Regions from separate parts of the Homo sapiens genome. Here all the other regions are linked to region 1. Evidence: fine-mapped expression QTL. A gene starts in region 1. Each other region holds a variant in brackets. All regions are shown on one strand. Distances are from middle to middle.

What was found.
Region 2: its variant is fine-mapped to the expression of MICAL1 in whole blood (TOPMed, PIP 0.93).
Region 3: its variant is fine-mapped to the expression of MICAL1 in Th17 cells (Schmiedel 2018, PIP 0.95).

What each region holds. Positions count from the first base shown.
Region 1 is chr6:109,454,531-109,457,030 of GRCh38, reverse strand. MICAL1 (microtubule associated monooxygenase, calponin and LIM domain containing 1) reads left to right here and starts at 1,259. Exons shown (of 25, transcript NM_022765.4): 1 at 1,259-1,312. RefSeq lists silencers at 638-1,487, 1,848-2,187 and enhancers at 1,747-2,255, 2,338-2,387.
Region 2 is chr6:109,332,334-109,335,183 of GRCh38, reverse strand. It overlaps the pseudogene CCDC162P. Among named protein-coding and RNA genes, the nearest start is that of CD164, 49 kb to the left of the region's middle. The variant G/T (reference allele first, on the strand shown) is at 1,215.
Region 3 is chr6:109,498,832-109,501,681 of GRCh38, reverse strand. AK9 (adenylate kinase 9) reads left to right here. Exons shown (of 41, transcript NM_001145128.3): 36 at 2,442-2,638. All of the region lies in intron 3 of ZBTB24-DT (ZBTB24 divergent transcript), which reads right to left. Among named protein-coding and RNA genes, the nearest start is that of ZBTB24-DT, 17 kb to the right of the region's middle. The variant A/GTGTA (reference allele first, on the strand shown) is at 1,648.

The sequences.
Region 1 (2,500 bases):
ATCTCAAGGACAGCAACCCTCTTATTTATACCTGGGTTTTATTAGTGCTTCCAGTGTAACAGTATCACTTCGTCTAAACAAGAAACAGCATCTTATAATGCCAGCCTTTCATGCGTCATTTTGGGTCAACCCTGGGGTGGTGGAGCCGACAGACCTGGGCCCCCAAACAGCTCTGCCACTTGCTGTGTGCAGATCACAGAACATCTGTGACTCAGTTTCCTTTTTGGTAAAATGGGACTGTTGCAAGCACTGATGTTGAGGTAATACTCATAGGATGACGGTCAATAAATGAGACGATGTTTTTTAATATTAACTAGCTAAAAGACTGGACGCGTCCCTTCACTTTAGGCGCTGTTCCTTATCGGGAATACGACGAAGCTGATCCCAAAGGCCTCTCCAGCCCTTTTCAGCAGACAGTCCCGTGGGTCCTCACTCTAAGGCATTCTTTGAAGACTTGGTCTCTCTTCCACACACCCCTCCCATTCCCCATCTCTTAGTGGTGGTCTAACCCGCCCCGCCATCCCCTTCCCTCTCACTTCTCATATCCATTTGGAAGCTGCAGATTGCTGAGTTTCCAGGACTTTAATCCGCGCCCTTTGCCCTCGGCCCGGGCTTAGGGGTCGACCTCTGTCACAGGAGGCGCACTCTGCGCTTGGATCCATCCTGGGGCGCCCGGGCCGTGGATCTCCAGGTGGGAGACCGGAGGAGAGCGCAGACGTTCCGGCGCCACCCTCGGACCCGCCGGCTTTTCCAAACCTCTTGAGGAGCCTGAGCGCCCTCTCGGCCCGGCGCTGGGAGGCTGCCAGCGGACCTGGGACCGCGGCGGGGGCGGGTGGTCCTCGCCTTGCGGCGGGGAAAGAGCTAGCCTTGCACGCGCAAGCACCGGCAAGGAGCCCAGGCCGAGGGTGCGCGGTCCAGCACTGGGCGCCCTGACCCTCGAGCTCCTCAGCCCCCAACAGGCCAGACCCACCCAGAGGCCCCAGAGCGGAACGGGGTGTCCGCAGCGCCACGCCCTCGGGCGCCACCCTGCAGGCATGGGCGGGCCCAAGACTGTCCCCGCTGGAGGCGGTAGAGGGATCCAGAAGTAATGAGATGCTAATGAGTCGCGAATAAAGCCCGGGCGGCGCCCCGCGCCCCTCGCGGAAGCCCACACTCCGCGCGACTCCAGGCGCACGCCCCGGGCCGCCCCGCATCCCAGCATCCCCGCCCGATCTCGGCGTTTCCGCCCCCGCCCCCGCCCCCGCCCTCCCACCCGCTCAGACCTGGTTGCCAGCCCAACAGGAAGCGGCCCCTCCCGGCTTCGGAGCCGCCGGTAAGTCGTCCAGCGGAGCCGGCTGCGAGCCCCGCGGCCGGGTGGGGTGAGGTGGGGTGCGCTTCCGGGGAAACGCAGCTGCGGTCGCTCGGGAACCACGCCTGGCAGGTCAGGCAGGTCTTCCCTCAGCCCAGCCCTGCTCACGCCGCGTCCGGACTTTGCCGTCCAGTGTCGGGGACCCCCACCGCTGCCGCCCGCGGTCCAGCTCCCTCTCCATCCTTTCAGACCGCTCCACCCCTCTCACAGCCTTTGTCCTGGCGTTTCCAGGCTGGGTCGCTCCTTTCTCCCCTTTCGCCGAGGTCTTCCTCCTTCCACCCTCCACCCCCAAGAAAGATCTTTGCCCTTCCGTCATGAGATTCCGTCTGCCCTCGTCCGGGCCACCCGCAGCGGGAGGCTTTCATCTCCTGTCTCGGCGCGGCGGGCTGGGAACGGAGGGGCAGCTGGATGGTGGAGGGGCCTGAGCCTCAGGGACCTGCCCCCACTGCTGCCATTCACCCTCCCTAACGCTGCCGTGGACACCCGCCTCCTCCATACCCTCTGATACCTTCTGGGCCCCGCGTGAGAAACCCCCTCGGGCACCCTTCAGGTGGCGTGGGAGGGGGCGACAAAGCGAGGCTTTGTCTCCGGAGATTCCTGGGAGAGCGCGCCCGGGCGCACAGGGGGCGGGGCGGGGTAGGGGTCGATCAGGGAGGGGGGAACCTGGGAGGGGCGCACCCGGCTGCGGTCGACCCCCAGCCCTACCCACGGCCCCCTGGAGTAGGGCACATTCACAGAGGAAGTGTTTTGACCACAGTGCGTCAGAAATAGACCCAGGCCTCCGTTCCCCAGTCAGTCGCAACATCCTCCCGCCGTTTGTTGAGGCAGTTTGGTGGAGGGAAGTGGAACCTACGCGGACAGAGGCTGTTTCTCTGTCAGGAGGCAAGCACGAGTGCTGAGGAAAACTTTGCCCTTGCCATGAGACACTTCTCAGACACAGCGTGGCACTGAGGCCATCAAGGGGCGCCGGCACAGGGACGCTTGGAGGGAGATGGGGCAGGATGTATGCTCAGCAGCTGGGGTTGTGGGTATCAGATCTGTCCCTGTGTTGCATGCAAAGGCAGCTCTGTCCTCTCCACATCTAAGAAATCCCCGCACACCCTGATTCCAAGGCCTAAGGAAGGCAGGCTAAGAATTCCTACCCCAGGGCTT
Region 2 (2,850 bases), 120 kb after region 1:
ACTTTTTGAATAGGTGGCAATTAAGGAACAGCCCAACCTTCCAAGGCAGGCTTAGATTTAGGTTCTGGAGAGAAATGGGAGCCAATATTTGGAAGGTAGGACAGACCTACCTAACTAGGACCTGCATATCTATGCGAGTGTGTTTGTCCCTCTGTGCATCAATGAGTGTGTGTGTGTGTGTGTGTGTGTGTGTATCTATCTGCAGGGATGGGGGGTGAGAAAGTTTATGGGGCCAAGTCTAAGACCCAGCCTACACTGTAACGTGAGTTTTATCTGTGACACTTCTGGGGTCAGGCCGGCTCCTGCTCCCTGGCCATCTACCATTGAAGCCAGCCTGTCCTTTGAGCCTAGGGGATCCTCCTGGCTCTGATTTGCTTGTCCTGGAAGGCCCAGGGCACTGTCCTATCATTGCAACCCCAGTGCTCCACTGACCTCCAGTGAAAGCCTACCATGGGCTTGGCCAAGGTAAGTTATTGAGGCAAACTAGCAGAGATGGCAAATAGCAGTAAGACGAGCCCTGATGGAGGAGAGTAAGGACAGTGGCTCACTCGCTGCAGCTGGGGAGAGGAGACAGAATCTATTTTGGAGGCAAGCTGACAGAATATATGACAAGATTTTACATGCTTGTGACTTTTGACTTAGTAGCTCCTCTTCTAGGAATTTAGGGAATAAAAGTTATCCACAAAAACATACGTAAACAGATGTTTATGTATGTTTTTATATTTTTACATATTTTACATATGTCTTTATATTTTTTCCAATAGAAAAGAAAAATGGAAACGACCTAAAATGCCTAACAATGGAAATGAGTTGAATCCATCTGGCTCATAGACATGACGAAATACTGAATGGCCACCATAAATGGACATATGTTTATTGATGAGGAAAGATCTTTATAACATATTGTCAAGTGAACAAAAAAGCATGCTATAAAAAAAGGTCATGCAGAATAATCTTATTTTGTAAAAAAAAAAAAAGTGTGTATTAGTCCATTTTCACACTGCTGAAAAAGACATACCTGAGAATGGGCAATTTACAAAAGAAAGAGGTTTAATGGACTTATAGTTCAACATGGCTGGGGAGGCCTCACAATCATGGTGAAAGGCAAGGAGGAGCAAGTCACGTCTTACACAGATGGCAGCAAAGAAAGAGAGCTTTTGCAGGGAAACTCCTGTTTTTAAAACCATCAAATCTTGTGAGCCTCATTCACTATG[G/T]TAAGAACAGTGCAGTAAATACCCACCCCCATGATTCAATCACCTCCCACTGGGTTCCTCCCACAACATGTGGGAATTGTGGGAGTTACAATTCAAGGTGAGGTTTGGGTGGGGACACAGCCAACCTATATCAAAGTGCATGAGTAGAAAAGTGTTATAAATAAAGTTTGGAAGAAAATATGTCAAAATAATAATAGTGGAGGCTAGGTGCTGTGGCTCACATCTGTAATCCCAGCACTTTGGGAGGCCAAGGAGGGATTGCTTGAGGCCAGGAGTTTGAGATCAGCCTGGCCAACAAAGTGAGACCCCATCTTTACAAAAAAGAAATACAAAAACTAGCTGGGCATGGTGGTGTGTGCCTGTAGTCCTAGCTTCAGGAGGCTGAGGTTGGAGGAGCACTTGAGCCCAGGAGTTTGAAGCTGCAGTGAGGTATGATCAGGCCACTGCACTCCAGCCTGGGTGACCTGTCTCTTAAAAAAAAAAAATAATAATAATAATAATAATGGTTATCAATGAGCACTAAGATTATGAGTATATTTTCTACTACAATATAATCATAAAATGTATATAACTAAAATAATTATGTAAATATATGTAAAAATAAAATGCATATAGTAATCTAAAGATAGTTGAGCTTTTTAAAAAGTCATCAACTATATCAGCTTGGCAGGATATGATCAAGATACGGGCAATAAAGCAGCAGATGGAAACCTCTGCTCACGCTGCATTTAATGAGCAGTGGATGGGGCAGTGAGGGGCAGGAACTCAGTGTCTCCCACTCACACTCTAGGGCCCTCCTCAAGGGGCTGCATTAGTGGGTGGGGTGAGGGCAGGATGACCTGCCCGTTACCCTTCTTGCCCCACCCAGTCTCTGGAGAGCAAGCACCAGGACAGCCATGGTTTAGTTGCTGACACAAGGCAAAGAGAACTCAAGATTCTACCCCTGGACCTTGACCTCCTGGTGAAAGGGCAAGGCTACACGGGTTTGGTCATGACAAAGGAAGCACTTCCTGGTTTGACTGTAATGAAAGCCTGCAGCCATGAGAAGTCACAAGACCCTACTGGAGTTCAGCAAGGTGTGGCCAGTGACCTCTTCTGGGCCTAGTGCTCTGAGCCAGCCACAGCAACTCAGTCTTTACTATCCTGGGTATGAGTGCCCAGACATGGGTGTGCCAACAGGGCATCCAACAGCTCTTATGCAGGGCAAACACTTCTCATAGTAATGCCACCATAGCCTCTGCAGATATAGGATCCCAAACCCACAGAAACGCACAACTGGACCACAGTGGCCCTCTGCCATGCCCTCTGAGCCAACATGATGTTTTACCTGGCCAGCAGGAGGAGTCTGTGGTGAGTCTGTATAACACCAAAGAGGTGGGAAAGGTAGGACTCTCCTTGAGCATCTCCAGAGGCCATAGAAGTTCTATTGCTTCCTTCTCTCAGAGCTCTACTGAGGCCTCAAGAGGTTGAGCTGAAAGCACAGCTCAAGGGGAGAGAGGCTGGAAGCAGGGAGAGGGAGAAGGGTGCAGGCAGAGTACCTGCAGGGGACATGGGACAGGGAGCATGTCTGAGGAGGGGCAGACAGGAAGCAGTGAGTGGCCAGTGAGGGAGGGGTGCAGGGAGGCTCTCAGGCTCC
Region 3 (2,850 bases), 44 kb before region 1:
AAATACTGTCACTTTATCAGTTTATGTCCTAAAGACCTTGTTAGGAGTAGTGCTGATGCCACACTGATGATTCTTTGCCTGCAAGAGATGAATAGAGGATGAGAGCCAATAAGCAATGGTTTTAAATGCCTGCCTTATTGAAGGAGGGCTGTGATTGCTTAAAGGAATGCCAGTTAATAAAGATCCCTTCATGTTGTGTATGTTCCTTTCCCCCTCTCCTACTCCCTGTTTAAAAGCAGGATTGTGGAGAGATTGCATAATGGAAACCTCTTTGGGCACGGTTTCCCAACCATCTCCTTTTCAGGATTACATGTGGCCTTTTGAAGAGTGGAAATGGTAGTTGGTATCAGGGGACATCATCTCCTGGACCCCCACACCCTCCTCCCCAGTACAGGCAGGCAGATCAGTGAGGCAATCAAGTGACATGACACCTCTGGCCTGTGATTCCAAAATCCAAAAACCTCTAAAAATATCAAGTTTAGTTATAAATCATTTGAGGGCAAAACTTCACATGAGCTGACATATGGCTATTTACAGTCTTTTTATGAAACCCAGTAAGTGGGGAAGGGTCAACCTATTTGGTTGCAGAAATTTCATCTTATCGATTACAGGGTGCTTCTCCAGACACTGTGAGGGTGTGATGTATTTCTTTTCTTTCATTTTGTTTGTTTGTTTGTTTGAGAGTCTCACTCTGTTGCCCAGCCTGGAGTGCAGTGGCTTACTGCAGCCTCCACCTCCCAAGCTCAAGTGTTCCTCCCACTTCAGCCTCTCAAGTAGCAGGGACTACAGGCATGTGCCACCACAGAGGGCTAATTTTTGTATTTTTTGTAGAGACAGGGTCTCGCCATGTTGCCCAAGCTGGTCTTAAACTCCTGGACTCAAGCGATCTACCCACCTCAGCCTCCCAAAGTGCTGCGATTACAGGCGTGAGCCACCACACCTGGCTGAGTGTGATGCGTTTCCAAAATCTAAAATATTCTGAATTATCCAACATTTCTGGCCCCAAGGGTCTTAGATAAGGGATTACAGTGCTGTAATAGTACATTGCAGATGAGATCATTTCTATCCTAACAAACAAAAAACAAACTATGATTTTTGCTTCATAATTTTATGGTTAATTTAGGACCTTCCTAGGCATAATCTTTTAAAAAGGTAAAACTTTGCCTTGGTAAAACGACAACTAACAAAACGTACTGGCTATAATAAGTCCACTCATTATAACTAAAATGTATTTAAAAAGTAATTTTATTTTCTATAACATCTTATATTGCTTTGAAGTCCCCATTCCAGTGGAGTATTAGAGAGAAAACTCTCTTTTTTATGTGTGTACTTACATTTTTGTTCTGGGTAAGCATAGAGAGAAAACTCTTAATCTTGTTCATTAAAGGAACTTGGGCACTTTCTTTTTAAAATCTACTCTTTAGAATAAAGCCAATCACTTTTGGATAAATGTTTGTTTTCCTTCTCTTGGGTGGGATCTGGGCACAGGGAGAACTTTGTGTGAGTAACATCATGTCAACAAACTATTTGCACTTCCTGAAATCTAGCCCATAGGTTTTTTTTAAATGTAGCAAGTTTATAAATGTGCGGGTATACACAGGTATAAATTGTGTGTGTGTGTGTGTGTGTGTGTGTGTGTGTGTGTGT[A/GTGTA]TCATATATATAGTCTATAATAGCTAAGAACTAAAACGGCCAAAACATTCACCAATAGATAAATGGTTGAGTAAACTACATGTATGTTTATACAGTGGAATACTATGCATCGATTAAAAAGAATTAGGTAAATTGGCCAGGCACGGAAGGCTCATGCCTGTAATCCCAACACTTTGGGAGGCCGAGGTGGGTGGATCACCTGAGGCCAGGAATTCGAGACCAACCTGGCCAGCATGGCAAAACCCTGTCTCTACTAAAAGTACAAAAAATTAGCCGTCTGTGATGGTACACATCTGTAATCCTAGCTACTTGGGAGGCTGAGGCACAAGAATCACTTGAACCTGGGAGGCTGCAGTGAACTGAGATCGAGCTACGCCACTGCACTCCAGCCTGGGTGACAGAGCGAGACTCCATCTCAAAAAAAAAAATTAGGTAAATTATATAAGCTTATATGAAAAGAGGTCAAAGACCATAACTGACTGATAAAAGCAAGTTGCAGAATAATGTTTATAGTATAGTGGCACAAGCATACTATATGCAAAAAAGTATGTATGTGAAGGTATAGAAAAAAGACTGAAAAAGATACAAATCCAACAGTGATGATTACCTCTCAGGTTAAGTATTGGATTGAAACAATGGAGATGTGAATAGTAACTTTTACTTTTTACTCTATTGTTTGGAATTTTATAATGTGTATGTATAGTGCTGTGTAATTAAAATTATTTTAATTTCTAAAATCATTGCGTTCTCTATGAAAAATATATACATGATAATAGTTAATATGTTAATAATAGGAAAAGCTGCCTGCATTGACAAGTTATGTATCACACCTCAAGAGCTGCTTTCTCGCCTGGGAGAATTTGAACAGTTCTGCCCTGTCAGCCTGGCAGAATCCCAGGAATTATTTGATTGCTCTGCAACTGACTCCTTGGAATTTGCAGCAGAGTTCAGGGGGCACTACTATAAAATGAGTTCTCAGGAAAAACTGAATGTAAGTTTGTTCCTAACTCCAAATATTTACTAAAGAAAGAAAATGTCTTATCTTGGAATCAATCAATAGGAAGGGATAGGCACCCAGAAACTTGGGACTAGGAGCCCCATTACTGGAACTTGTGACTCTGGGACCAGTGAAGCAACTCAGCAGTGAGTTCCAAAACTGCATCCCAGGATATAATTTGAAACATTGCAGGAGTCCAGGGTCAT